3 linked regions of the Homo sapiens genome follow. The protein of the gene in region 1 interacts with the protein of each later gene in a pairwise test. Each region holds a gene or a part of one and is shown in the gene's direction. Other genes may lie near its edges.

What was found.
Region 2: the proteins of CYB561D1 (region 1) and CFTR interact in binary tests that used the Homo sapiens proteins (3 or more experiments, as listed by UniProt).
Region 3: the proteins of CYB561D1 (region 1) and GAD2 interact in binary tests that used the Homo sapiens proteins (3 or more experiments, as listed by UniProt).

What each region holds. Positions count from the first base shown.
Region 1 is NC_000001.11:109,492,681-109,496,974, forward strand, and holds the start of CYB561D1 (probable transmembrane reductase CYB561D1), read left to right. Parts: upstream 1-1,413; 5' UTR 1,414-1,459; coding exon 1,460-1,607; intron 1,608-1,839; coding exon of another isoform or gene 1,840-1,943; intron 1,944-2,462; coding exon 2,463-2,500; intron 2,501-2,998; coding exon of another isoform or gene 2,999-3,075; coding exon 3,076-3,579; 3' UTR 3,580-4,294. UniProt on the Homo sapiens protein: Probable transmembrane reductase that may use ascorbate as an electron donor and transfer electrons across membranes to reduce monodehydro-L-ascorbate radical and iron cations Fe(3+) in another cellular compartment.
Region 2 is NC_000007.14:117,591,418-117,595,068, forward strand, and holds part of CFTR (cystic fibrosis transmembrane conductance regulator), read left to right. Parts: intron 1-516; coding exon 517-1,240; intron 1,241-3,512; coding exon 3,513-3,641; intron 3,642-3,651. UniProt on the Homo sapiens protein: Epithelial ion channel that plays an important role in the regulation of epithelial ion and water transport and fluid homeostasis. Mediates the transport of chloride ions across the cell membrane.
Region 3 is NC_000010.11:26,219,724-26,223,374, forward strand, and holds part of GAD2 (glutamate decarboxylase 2), read left to right. Parts: intron 1-3,651. UniProt on the Homo sapiens protein: Catalyzes the production of GABA.

The sequences.
Region 1 (4,294 bases):
TTATAACTTTATATTATTTTTTTTTAAGAAAAAAAGCTCTTTAAAATACCTCAAGACTGTCTCCCTGTTCTGTTGCTGCTATGAAAATATAAAAACAGAAACATAGAAAAGGAAGGAAAAAAAATAACAAAATGAGTGTCCTTACTGTCCCCAGCCCTACCCTGGGAGGCTGAGATGATAGGCAGCCAGACTCCAGCTCCCATAGCTTGCCTGCAAAAGTCTCTTATGCTCATTATTATTATTATTGTCATCTTGTCATTTTCAATAGTGTGAAAAATGTTTGTGTCACTGGGGTAGTCTTTCCAGACAGGATGATGAGGCGTGTGGCTCTGAATGAGTAAGGCTTCCTGAGTCTTGACACCAGAGACGACTATGGTCCCATTGGGAAGAGAAACTCGAGAGGGGGAGCTGCACTTCTGGCTCTTTCTAGGATCCTTGCCCCGAGGGTCTGGGAATTGGCTTGTGACCCTTTTCTGGTCCTTCAGCAACCCTAGGCATCCATCCCTCCCTGAATTATTGCCTGCTTTTCTTCAGCTGTTCCTGCAGCCTCATTTTCTCAGCCACTTAGGGAGCTTGAGCTGGGTTGGTCATTGCTGTTGGGATATTCCTGTTTTCTATTGGACAGCCTTCCTTCCCTGCCTGTGGGTTTGCCTTTAAGGAAGGGGTAGAACCTTTCCCAGGGAGGCCTCCTTGGGTTGAACCACCCCTTTTTTGGAGGCAGGAAGGGAAAAGGCATCATCACTTGCAGAACTGGTGGTGTGGGAGGCCACAGGAGTGTGGGAGGCCTTGGTCCTTCAGGATCACCTGGCTCCTCAGGGCTGAGCAGCTGCTGAGGAGGCGGCAGGGCTGGGAGTGCCCTAGTTTTTCCATTTATCTCGCTGGGGACCACTCCCGTGCAGATGCGAGAGGAGACTTGCATTTCCCTCCTTTGGTCCACCAGGTTCAAGGCACTATATTTTGGCGATGTCCTTTCCTATTCTCCTTGCTCTTAGGCATGGAGGAAGCTTGTTCCCTGAACAAGACAAAATGAGGTGACAGGAGACAGTGCACAGCCAGGGAAATCCAGTACTACTAGAAATCGGCTCCAAACACTTGTTTCACAGTCTTGGTTCAGCGTACCAAGTGTGTGATTTGGGGTTTCACTGAAATCGTTTGCCACAAAAGTAATTTCCACAGGCTGCTTGGGATTTAGGCCCTTGTAGACAGACACACAGATACAAATGAAGGTGGGCTGGGAACTGTTCGGTCCCCTTCTGCCTCCGGGCTCTCGCGGGAGCGGGCCTCTCCGGGGCACTCGCGTTTCCCCCCCAGCCCCCAGAGGGCGCTGTGGGCCACTCCGCCGCACTGCCGGCGGCGTCCCCGGGGAGGAGCCTCTCCTGCAGCCGCCACCGCCTCCGCGATCGCAAACCCGGAAGACGTGTTCGGGCAGCTGGAGTGTACGGGCCCGCGGGCCACGGCCATGCAGCCCCTGGAGGTAGGTCTGGTTCCCGCTCCAGCTGGGGAGCCGAGACTGACCCGCTGGCTGCGGAGAGGCAGTGGGATCTTGGCGCACCTGGTAGCTTTGGGCTTCACCATCTTTCTGACAGCGCTGTCCCGGCCAGGAACCAGTGAGTGTGCGGGGCGGGGTTGCGGAAGGGGGCGGAGTGGAGATGCTGGAGGGGCAGCGCTTGGGAGCCCCGGGAGACTTGGAGGAGGGACCCCAGCAGTAAAGGGGAGACAGAAACAGTGGAGGGATTTTGAGGGCCTGGTGGGGCGGGGCCCCAGGGATCCTGGAATAATGGGGTTTTGGGTGCTGTGGGGGAAGGGCAGACGATTGAACAGACCGAACTACTTCCTCAGAAACAGGTCCCCTGATGGAGGATAGAAGTGAAGGAGGCCGGGCGCGGTGGGTCATGCCTGAAATCCCAGCACTTTGGGAGGCCGACGCGGGTGGATCACTTGAGGTCAGGAGTTCGAGACCAGCCTGGCCAACATGGTGAAACCCCGTCTCTACTAAGAATACAAAAATTAGCCAGGCGTGATGGCGCGCGCCTGTAGTTCCAGCTACTTGGGAGGCTGAGGGAGGAGAATCGCTTGAACCCGGGAGGTGGAGGCTGCAGTGAGCCGAGATTGCACCACTGCACTCCACCCTGTGCGACAGAGCGAGACTCCGTATCAAAAAAAAAACAAAAAACAACAACCAAAAAAAACAAAAAACAAAAAAGGGGCAGAGGACTGGGCTGCCAGCTGAGAGGTGCTGAACGGGGAACCCGGGCCAAACTGTTGTATGTGTGTGGATAAGGAGGCCCTCTTGGTTGCTCACCCTGGGGCTCCTTGGCTGCTCCACTTTGTCCTTAGTTCCTGTGCCCGATTAGGATTGGGGATGGTACTTTTCTCCTGTGGCTAGATTCTTTGGGTTCCACCTAGCTACAGGGGCAGGAACAATGGTACCAAGCCCTCAGCCTGTTCTCTTTGATTCTTAGGTCTTTTCTCCTGGCACCCTGTATTCATGGCCTTGGCGGTGAGTTTAGGCTTCTATCTGATTTGTTTGGGTATTCCTCACCTCATTCTCCCAGGGAAGCACCCAGCTTTCAGAAAGCTCAGCCTTTCTAAGGCTAAGACAGGTGGAGGAAACATCTAGGGCTCATCTTTCCCTGCAGCCTATGGGATTGGGAAACCTGGAGGGCTGGGCCATAGGCAGTTGTCAGATGGTTGAAAAGGGCGGGAGGGCATGGAAGATAATTTCTTTCTCCATTGGGGCCGGAAAGGAGAAGGGGGGAGAGGTGTTATCCGGTCATCTCCCGACTTGTCCCCAAAGTTCAGGAAGAAGTTTAACATTTGCTACTCCACTGGTCAAGAAATGGGAGTCATTGTAGAGGTTGGGATGGGGAGATGTCAACCTGAATGAGGAGACGTGCACTCAAGTGCTGATTCCCAAATGTTCCCAGAAATGTTGAGCTGTGAGGCTGGTGGTCCTGGTTGAACTTATTTAACCCTTACCCTTTGTCCTCTTTGTTAGGATGTATGAGAGCACCTCCTTTTTCTCAGGCCTCCAAGCCAGACATGAGGCTTACTGGCTCTCTCCTATGTTCACAGTTCTGCCTCTGCATGGCTGAAGCCATCCTACTCTTCTCACCTGAACACTCCCTGTTCTTCTTCTGCTCCCGAAAAGCACGGATCCGGCTCCACTGGGCAGGGCAGACCCTAGCCATCCTCTGTGCAGCTCTGGGCCTGGGCTTCATCATCTCCAGCAGGACCCGCAGTGAGCTGCCTCATCTGGTGTCCTGGCACAGCTGGGTGGGAGCCCTGACACTGCTGGCCACTGCTGTCCAGGCACTGTGTGGGCTCTGCCTCCTTTGTCCCCGGGCAGCCAGGGTCTCAAGGGTGGCTCGCCTCAAGCTCTACCATCTGACATGTGGACTGGTGGTCTACCTGATGGCTACAGTAACGGTGCTTCTGGGCATGTACTCAGTATGGTTCCAGGCCCAGATCAAAGGTGCGGCCTGGTACCTGTGCCTGGCACTGCCCGTCTATCCAGCCCTGGTGATCATGCACCAGATTTCCAGATCCTACTTGCCGAGGAAGAAAATGGAAATGTGAGTTCCTGCGAACGCTGAATCTAGGTGGGACGCTTGCCTTGAACATCATGGTTCCTTTGGTGATCTATAAGGGATCTATTTAAGAAGTGGTCAGGTTTTCGCACTTCTTGGCTGGTCCAGGGACTGCAGAAACCAAAGCTGCTATTGTTGAGGAATAATTCAGTGGGTCAAAATGGGGAGATGTACTGGGTATGAGTGGAAGGTGATGGAGAGCCTGATCCTGAAGCCTCTACTTGATGAGAGACAGAGTTTTGGGTGGTGATAGTGATGTGCTGGTGGTCATTTCTTGCTTGTGTGCCTGATGAAAAACTGGGTTCCTGTAAGTTATGAATGGCATCCAGGGATATTTGGGTTACTTTTAAGAAAGCAGTGTGATGTAGTGGAGAGAGCCCATGGGTCTTATTTATGGGATATGGTCCTCTTAGGCTCTGTTGTACAACCTTAGGTACATTCCATATCTTAAGACCACTGTTTCTTCATCTGTGAAATGTTTCTAAACAATCTCTAAGTCCCTTCCTTCTCTAATATACAGCGTCTGTCAGGTCGATGTCTCAGAACACTCTCCCAGCTGTGGACCACGTGGACCACTTAGCAGACTCAGGGGGTAGTTCTTTACTCTCCCTTTACTACCCTGGAGGGACAGCTCTGCCCTTGAGGCCCTTCAGAAATTTGTGCTGATTTGGTCCCTGTGCCAGGGCACAGGGGGTCAGGCACTG
Region 2 (3,651 bases), on another chromosome or scaffold:
TCAGTTGTTATTATTGCTGTTTTATTTTTAGTGAAACAGATTAGTCTTAATGTAAACACTTGAGAAATAAATTGATGGTCAACCTAAAATGTAAAAAAGAAATTAATAGAAAATTTAAAGAGCAACAAAGCTCTGACATTTAAAAGAAATGAAGTACAAATCTCTAGGGACCTTAAAGATCATCTAATAATTTCCTCATTTTCTAGATAAATAAACTGAGAGACCCCGAGGATAAATGATTTGCTCAAAGTCAAATATCTACTTAATATAGGAAATTTAATTTCATTCTCAGTCTGTTAACATGCAACTTTTCAATATAGCATGTTATTTCATGCTATCAGAATTCACAAGGTACCAATTTAATTACTACAGAGTACTTATAGAATCATTTAAAATATAATAAAATTGTATGATAGAGATTATATGCAATAAAACATTAACAAAATGCTAAAATACGAGACATATTGCAATAAAGTATTTATAAAATTGATATTTATATGTTTTTATATCTTAAAGCTGTGTCTGTAAACTGATGGCTAACAAAACTAGGATTTTGGTCACTTCTAAAATGGAACATTTAAAGAAAGCTGACAAAATATTAATTTTGCATGAAGGTAGCAGCTATTTTTATGGGACATTTTCAGAACTCCAAAATCTACAGCCAGACTTTAGCTCAAAACTCATGGGATGTGATTCTTTCGACCAATTTAGTGCAGAAAGAAGAAATTCAATCCTAACTGAGACCTTACACCGTTTCTCATTAGAAGGAGATGCTCCTGTCTCCTGGACAGAAACAAAAAAACAATCTTTTAAACAGACTGGAGAGTTTGGGGAAAAAAGGAAGAATTCTATTCTCAATCCAATCAACTCTATACGAAAATTTTCCATTGTGCAAAAGACTCCCTTACAAATGAATGGCATCGAAGAGGATTCTGATGAGCCTTTAGAGAGAAGGCTGTCCTTAGTACCAGATTCTGAGCAGGGAGAGGCGATACTGCCTCGCATCAGCGTGATCAGCACTGGCCCCACGCTTCAGGCACGAAGGAGGCAGTCTGTCCTGAACCTGATGACACACTCAGTTAACCAAGGTCAGAACATTCACCGAAAGACAACAGCATCCACACGAAAAGTGTCACTGGCCCCTCAGGCAAACTTGACTGAACTGGATATATATTCAAGAAGGTTATCTCAAGAAACTGGCTTGGAAATAAGTGAAGAAATTAACGAAGAAGACTTAAAGGTAGGTATACATCGCTTGGGGGTATTTCACCCCACAGAATGCAATTGAGTAGAATGCAATATGTAGCATGTAACAAAATTTACTAAAATCATAGGATTAGGATAAGGTGTATCTTAAAACTCAGAAAGTATGAAGTTCATTAATTATACAAGCAACGTTAAAATGTAAAATAACAAATGATTTCTTTTTGCAATGGACATATCTCTTCCCATAAAATGGGAAAGGATTTAGTTTTTGGTCCTCTACTAAGCCAGTGATAACTGTGACTATAAGTTAGAAAGCATTTGCTTTATTACCATCTTGAACCCTCTGTGGGAAGAGGTGCAGTATAAATAACTGTATAAATAAATAGTAGCTTTCATTATTTATAGCTCGCAAAATAATCTGTATGGAAGTAGCATATATAAGGTATATAAACATTTAGCCTCTTGATAGGACTAACTCACATTCTGGTTTGTATATCAGTCTTGCCTGAATTTAGCTAGTGTGGGCTTTTTTTTATCTTGTGAGTTTGCTTTATACATTGGGTTTCTGAAAAGATTTCTTTTAGAGAATGTATATAAGCTTAACATGTACTAGTGCCAATCTTCAGACAGAAATTTTGTTCTATTAGGTTTTAAGAATAAAAGCATTTTATTTTTAAAACAGGAAATAATATAAAAAGGAGAGTTTTTGTTGTTTTAGTAGAAAACTTAATGCCTTGGATGAAATGAGCCATGGGCAGGGTTGTAATGAATTGATATGTTTAATAGTATAGATCATTTGTGAATAATATGACCTTTGACAAGACACAAGCCATTAACATCTGTAGGCAGAAGTTTCCTTCTTTGTAAAATGAGGGAATAAAATAGATCCCTAAAGTGTGTAATTTTAGTATTTCTAAACTTTATGAAGGTTTCCTAAATGATAATTCATCTATATAGTGTTTTTTTGTGTGTTTGTTTGTTTGTTTGTTTGAGATGGAGTCTCGCTCTGTCACCTAGGCTGGAGTGCAATGGTGCAACCTCGGCTCACTGCAACCTCTGCCTCCTGGGTTCAAGCTAATCTCCTGCCTCAGCCTCCTGAGTAGCTGAGATTACAGGCATGCACCACCATGCCGAGCTAATTTTTGTATTTTTAGTAGAGAAGGGGTTTCATCATGTTGACCAGGCTGGTCTTGAACTCCTGACCTTGTGATCCACCCACCTCAGCCTCCCAAAGTGCTGGTATTACAGGCGTGTGCCACCACGTCCAGCCTGAGCCACTGCGCCCAGCCCATCTATATAGTTTAATATCAATCTAAATGAATTTCTCAGTCCTGAGCCTAAAAATTTAGTTGTAAAGAATGATATCCTTGACTAATAATAGTTTCTATTAATGGATTGCATCTAGTGCTAGGTGGCATATATTTAGTCCCCACAACTACCCTGGAAGGTATTTAAAATTTTTCACATTTGCAGATAAGGAAACTAAAGTTCAGAGTTCGGCAACATGCTTGAATTCAAGCAGCTCCTAGGATGTTAATGGTGGAGGTTGGGTTCAAATCCAGATCTGTCTGACTCAAAAAATGCATACTCCTAACCAGTGCACTATATCCCAATTCCATAGGAGCCCTTCTTTGTGATTCATAGCACTTTCCCATGAGTTTTGTTGATTTTGTGAGAAACAAAACTCTTTTTCCTTTGGACTGTCTGGAATCTCTCTTTTTCAAATTTTTGAAATGTATTTCTATGCCAAAAGACAAAGATTTCTAGAGGAATATGCCTAGGATGAGAATTATGTAATTTAAATCACAGCTGGAAAGAGAGAAAGTCCTAAGTTACTAAGAAATGTTCAAACACAAATGAGCTTTCAGTCTATTGGAAGACCTTTATAGCTAGAAGTATACTGAACTGTACTTGTCCATGGACCCCTGAAGAAACAGGTTAAATCAAAGAGAGTTCTGGGAAACTTCATTTAGATGGTATCATTCATTTGATAAAAGGTATGCCACTGTTAAGCCTTTAATGGTAAAATTGTCCAATAATAATACAGTTATATAATCAGTGATACATTTTTAGAATTTTGAAAAATTACGATGTTTCTCATTTTTAATAAAGCTGTGTTGCTCCAGTAGACATTATTCTGGCTATAGAATGACATCATACATGGCATTTATAATGATTTATATTTGTTAAAATACACTTAGATTCAAGTAATACTATTCTTTTATTTTCATATATTAAAAATAAAACCACAATGGTGGCATGAAACTGTACTGTCTTATTGTAATAGCCATAATTCTTTTATTCAGGAGTGCTTTTTTGATGATATGGAGAGCATACCAGCAGTGACTACATGGAACACATACCTTCGATATATTACTGTCCACAAGAGCTTAATTTTTGTGCTAATTTGGTGCTTAGTAATTTTTCTGGCAGAGGTAAGAATGT
Region 3 (3,651 bases), on another chromosome or scaffold:
CACCCTATTAATCATTGAGTGGGAGGGATGTTTTCACATTGTGTCAAATGGCCAACCTTTCAGATTTGAATTCAGATTTTCACTTATTTTTAAGGAAATGTGCACAACACACAAGCAGGCATGATACAGACTAGCTTAGCAATTCAGCCATGTTATATAAGGATGTGTGTTCCTCCCAGCCACTGTATATGTGAGATAAAGAAAAAGGGGGGGAGGGGCAAATCAGATATCCTTAGGGGGAAATTTTTTTAAATGTACTTTTGTGGTCTCTTGGCTTTTCACAGGAGTCTTTATATTCCATCCATATTACAGCTTCATTTATAACATTTATTTGGGTGCATTCCGAGCTTTCATGTTATCTACACAAAGTCAGCCATTCATCTGCCCAGGTCTTGATTACCCTCGCTTTTTACGTTGTCTCTAATCATCCTGATACACGATGGCTGACACTTCATTACGGCAATAAAAATAAGTATGAATGAATTTCCAGGGGTGGGGAGGACTTTGTGGATCGAAGTTGATGTGTAGCCTTTAAAAGATTTGCTAGCAAATAAAAAATGTGAAATATGACATGAACATTCATCACCATAGAAACGTCATCTTTTTAGATTGCAAACATTTTGCTGATGAATTAGCAGTATTACGCTAATCAATAACAAACATTCTTAAAATGTTTGCTGTGAGAAGTTTAGTTCTTTTTTTCTTTTTGTTCACATTATTTGTACCAACAGAGAAGAAAGGTAGGCATACAAAAAGCCTTGGGACATAGATTTCTATCAAAGTCAGGCTATGGAATAGGAGTTTTGAAGGTGTATTAGACATCATCCTCAATTAACGTTCATGAAGAACCCACGTGATGTTTATACCAGGCATTAAAAATTTTCCTACCCCTCCTCAGCTTTTCCTGCATTCATAGTGCAATCCTGGGTGATGCTTTTAATTCATTTTTTGACCCATTCCCCATACCTTATATTTAGATACGTTAATAGTAAATTGCCACCTATTGTTTGTATTGCTACCAAACCAAAAAGAACCTATGGAAATGTTTTGTGTCTTCATCCTTGAAAGCTAGTGGTGCCTGAAATGCAGTCTACAGAGTTAAGATAATGGGAACTGCAAGTCAATGAAAGTAATAGTTCTGTCTATCAACGTTGCATTTAGTGCCAGGAAAAGATGGGCTAATTCAATACTTACATTTTGCCATAATGCTTATGAAACTGTTAGGTGTCACTGTAATGCATTTTATTTAAAGTTCAGATAAAAATGTGATGGATTAAGTTGGATTTCTAAGCAAGGCATATCAATTCAATCTCTCAATAGTTTTCATAACATATTTAGTCTGCTGGCCTTTTCCTTCAAATAGCATTTCAAAAAATTAACAGCAGTCATTTTCTCTATTCAGCTGGCAACTTTATAGATTTCTGTGCTATAACTGTCATACTTGTCATCTAATGCTATTTAGGGTATGTCAAATTAGTTACCATCCTTGCTACTACCAGACATTTTAATACTCCTCAAGAGATTATTTTATAAAATGCATATTATCATCTTGTTTCTACTGAGAGACCTTAACCTGATTTCCACTTGGGCTCCAAGCTTAGAGAGGAGTGAAGGGCAGTGGGAAAATGAAGTCTTCATGGATTGTTAAAATTACCTCTGTAAAAAGAAATGTTGGAACACGGAAAACTGAGCAGAGAATGATAGAATTCCAGAATAATTTGCATTTGCAGAGATCATTAGATTTGGTGCTAGTGGTGGTGGTGCTGGCTGGGGAAGAGTAGGACTTAAATGTGGTCCTGAATCTTTTACCAAACCATCAGACAAAGGGAATTAAGCGTCAGTAGATGAGGCAGCCCTAGTGTGAGTGTTGCCAGGACATAAAGAGCAGTTTGGACCGACTTTTGGCCTCTTCCCAACTGATCATGAGCACAGGGTCAGAGTTGCCTGAGGCTGGTTGTTCGCAGAGTCTGCGCATCCTTCCGGGCTCATTTGCTAGTCTGCAGGGAGCATCCCTGAGTCTGAGCAGCCAGTTCTCACATCTCAAGCTCGCCACCTTCCTGGCTGCATAGGCTGTGTGGCCACCCAATGGCTGACGCAGTGCGCTCTGCTCCCATCACAGGGCCTGGCAGGGTGGCGACAGCAGCAGGAGGCCAAGGGCTGCAGGGACACCTGACCTATGGGGGCAGGTCTCACAATTCCTTGGAGAGAGCCCTGCCTTGATTTGCTGGGCAGCCCTAGGAAGCAGCCTGTAGGGGCCACAGGATGGGAGCAAATGTCACTAGGGGAATATTTCTGCCAGAAATCGAGAGAGCCTGTTGATCTGACCTGTCAAACTATCTCCCTCCCTATTTTCACATCATCATCAGGGAATGAAATTTTTGAGGCAGGAGAGATTCAGGTGAAATGGCAGAGCAAGGTCAAAATATATATAGGGAGGAAGGGAAACCTAGCAATGAAAGCGTCAAACCTGTTTTCACTGTTTACGGAAAGTTATCATCAGGGTGAATTGGCCTTCTGATATCCAGAGGCACAACACACCCCTCACAATCTCTCTCCATCTTATGCACAGGTTTTCATTCCCAAGTTTCCCTAGAGTTAAATACTGTCTAATCATAGACACCACATTCATCCAGAAAATGAATATGAATTATAATCCTTATTAATTTCCTCACTTGAAAAAAAAAGGGTTAGGGAAAGAGAAATGAAGGAGCATCGGGAGGGAGGAAATGGCTGTGATTTCAGCTGCGAGCATAATGAAATGGGGAGTCAATGAGGCAGAGAGGAGTGAAGGGTTGCTCCAGACCTCAGTGGCCACAGCAGCAAAAAAGCCTTCTCACCCTTCGTGGATGGGTAAACTGAGGGGGTCAGCATCAGAGATAGAGGGGTACCACACGAGGCCACAAGGACATAAAACAATGCTGGAGAATGTACAATAGATACACAAGTCCTGATCCCGCTAAAATGGGCTCCCTCCCAGCTTATATCTTTACCCAGTGTCTGTCTGGCCACATGCCTGAGGCTGATAAGAGAGCACTCCAGTGCAGGAGATAAGCTAGCCATTGACTTTTGTCCCTGCTCTTCCCCATTGCCTTCCTTTATCTTGTTTTGCCTGTGCTGGAGATGAGAGACAATCACATCCCAGGCTTCAGACAGATGTCCAGGATGTGGAAGATACCTTTTTATCAGATGCTATTTCCACAATGGCCCATCTTCTAAAATTTTTGCTGCTGTGCAAATCACGGACCTATCGATGACAGGCTTTTGTGGAGCAAGAGGAGAAAACTGAATGCTAATGACATATTTATAATCACATTTTAAATAATAGCCTCAGGAGAGTGTGGATGTCAATCCATTTAGAGAGTTTTAGAGGAATCTAGAAGTTAATTAGATAAGCCTTGCGATGGACTAATCAGTCGATTGAGTATATCTTTCTGTATCTTGTTGATAAAACAGTGATGTTGACTGTATGTGGCCTTATTTTAAATCACAACTATGGAGGAGCGCTGTTGTTTATAATTAACAAAGAAGAATTGACAAGAATTAGCTTTGTCCATGCCATCTTTAGACAATCATCACCTTTTGAATCCAGGGCAAATCATTCAGCAGAGTGTCCTATTTTCTCATTTTTGCCCTGTCTTTTGTAATCATCAG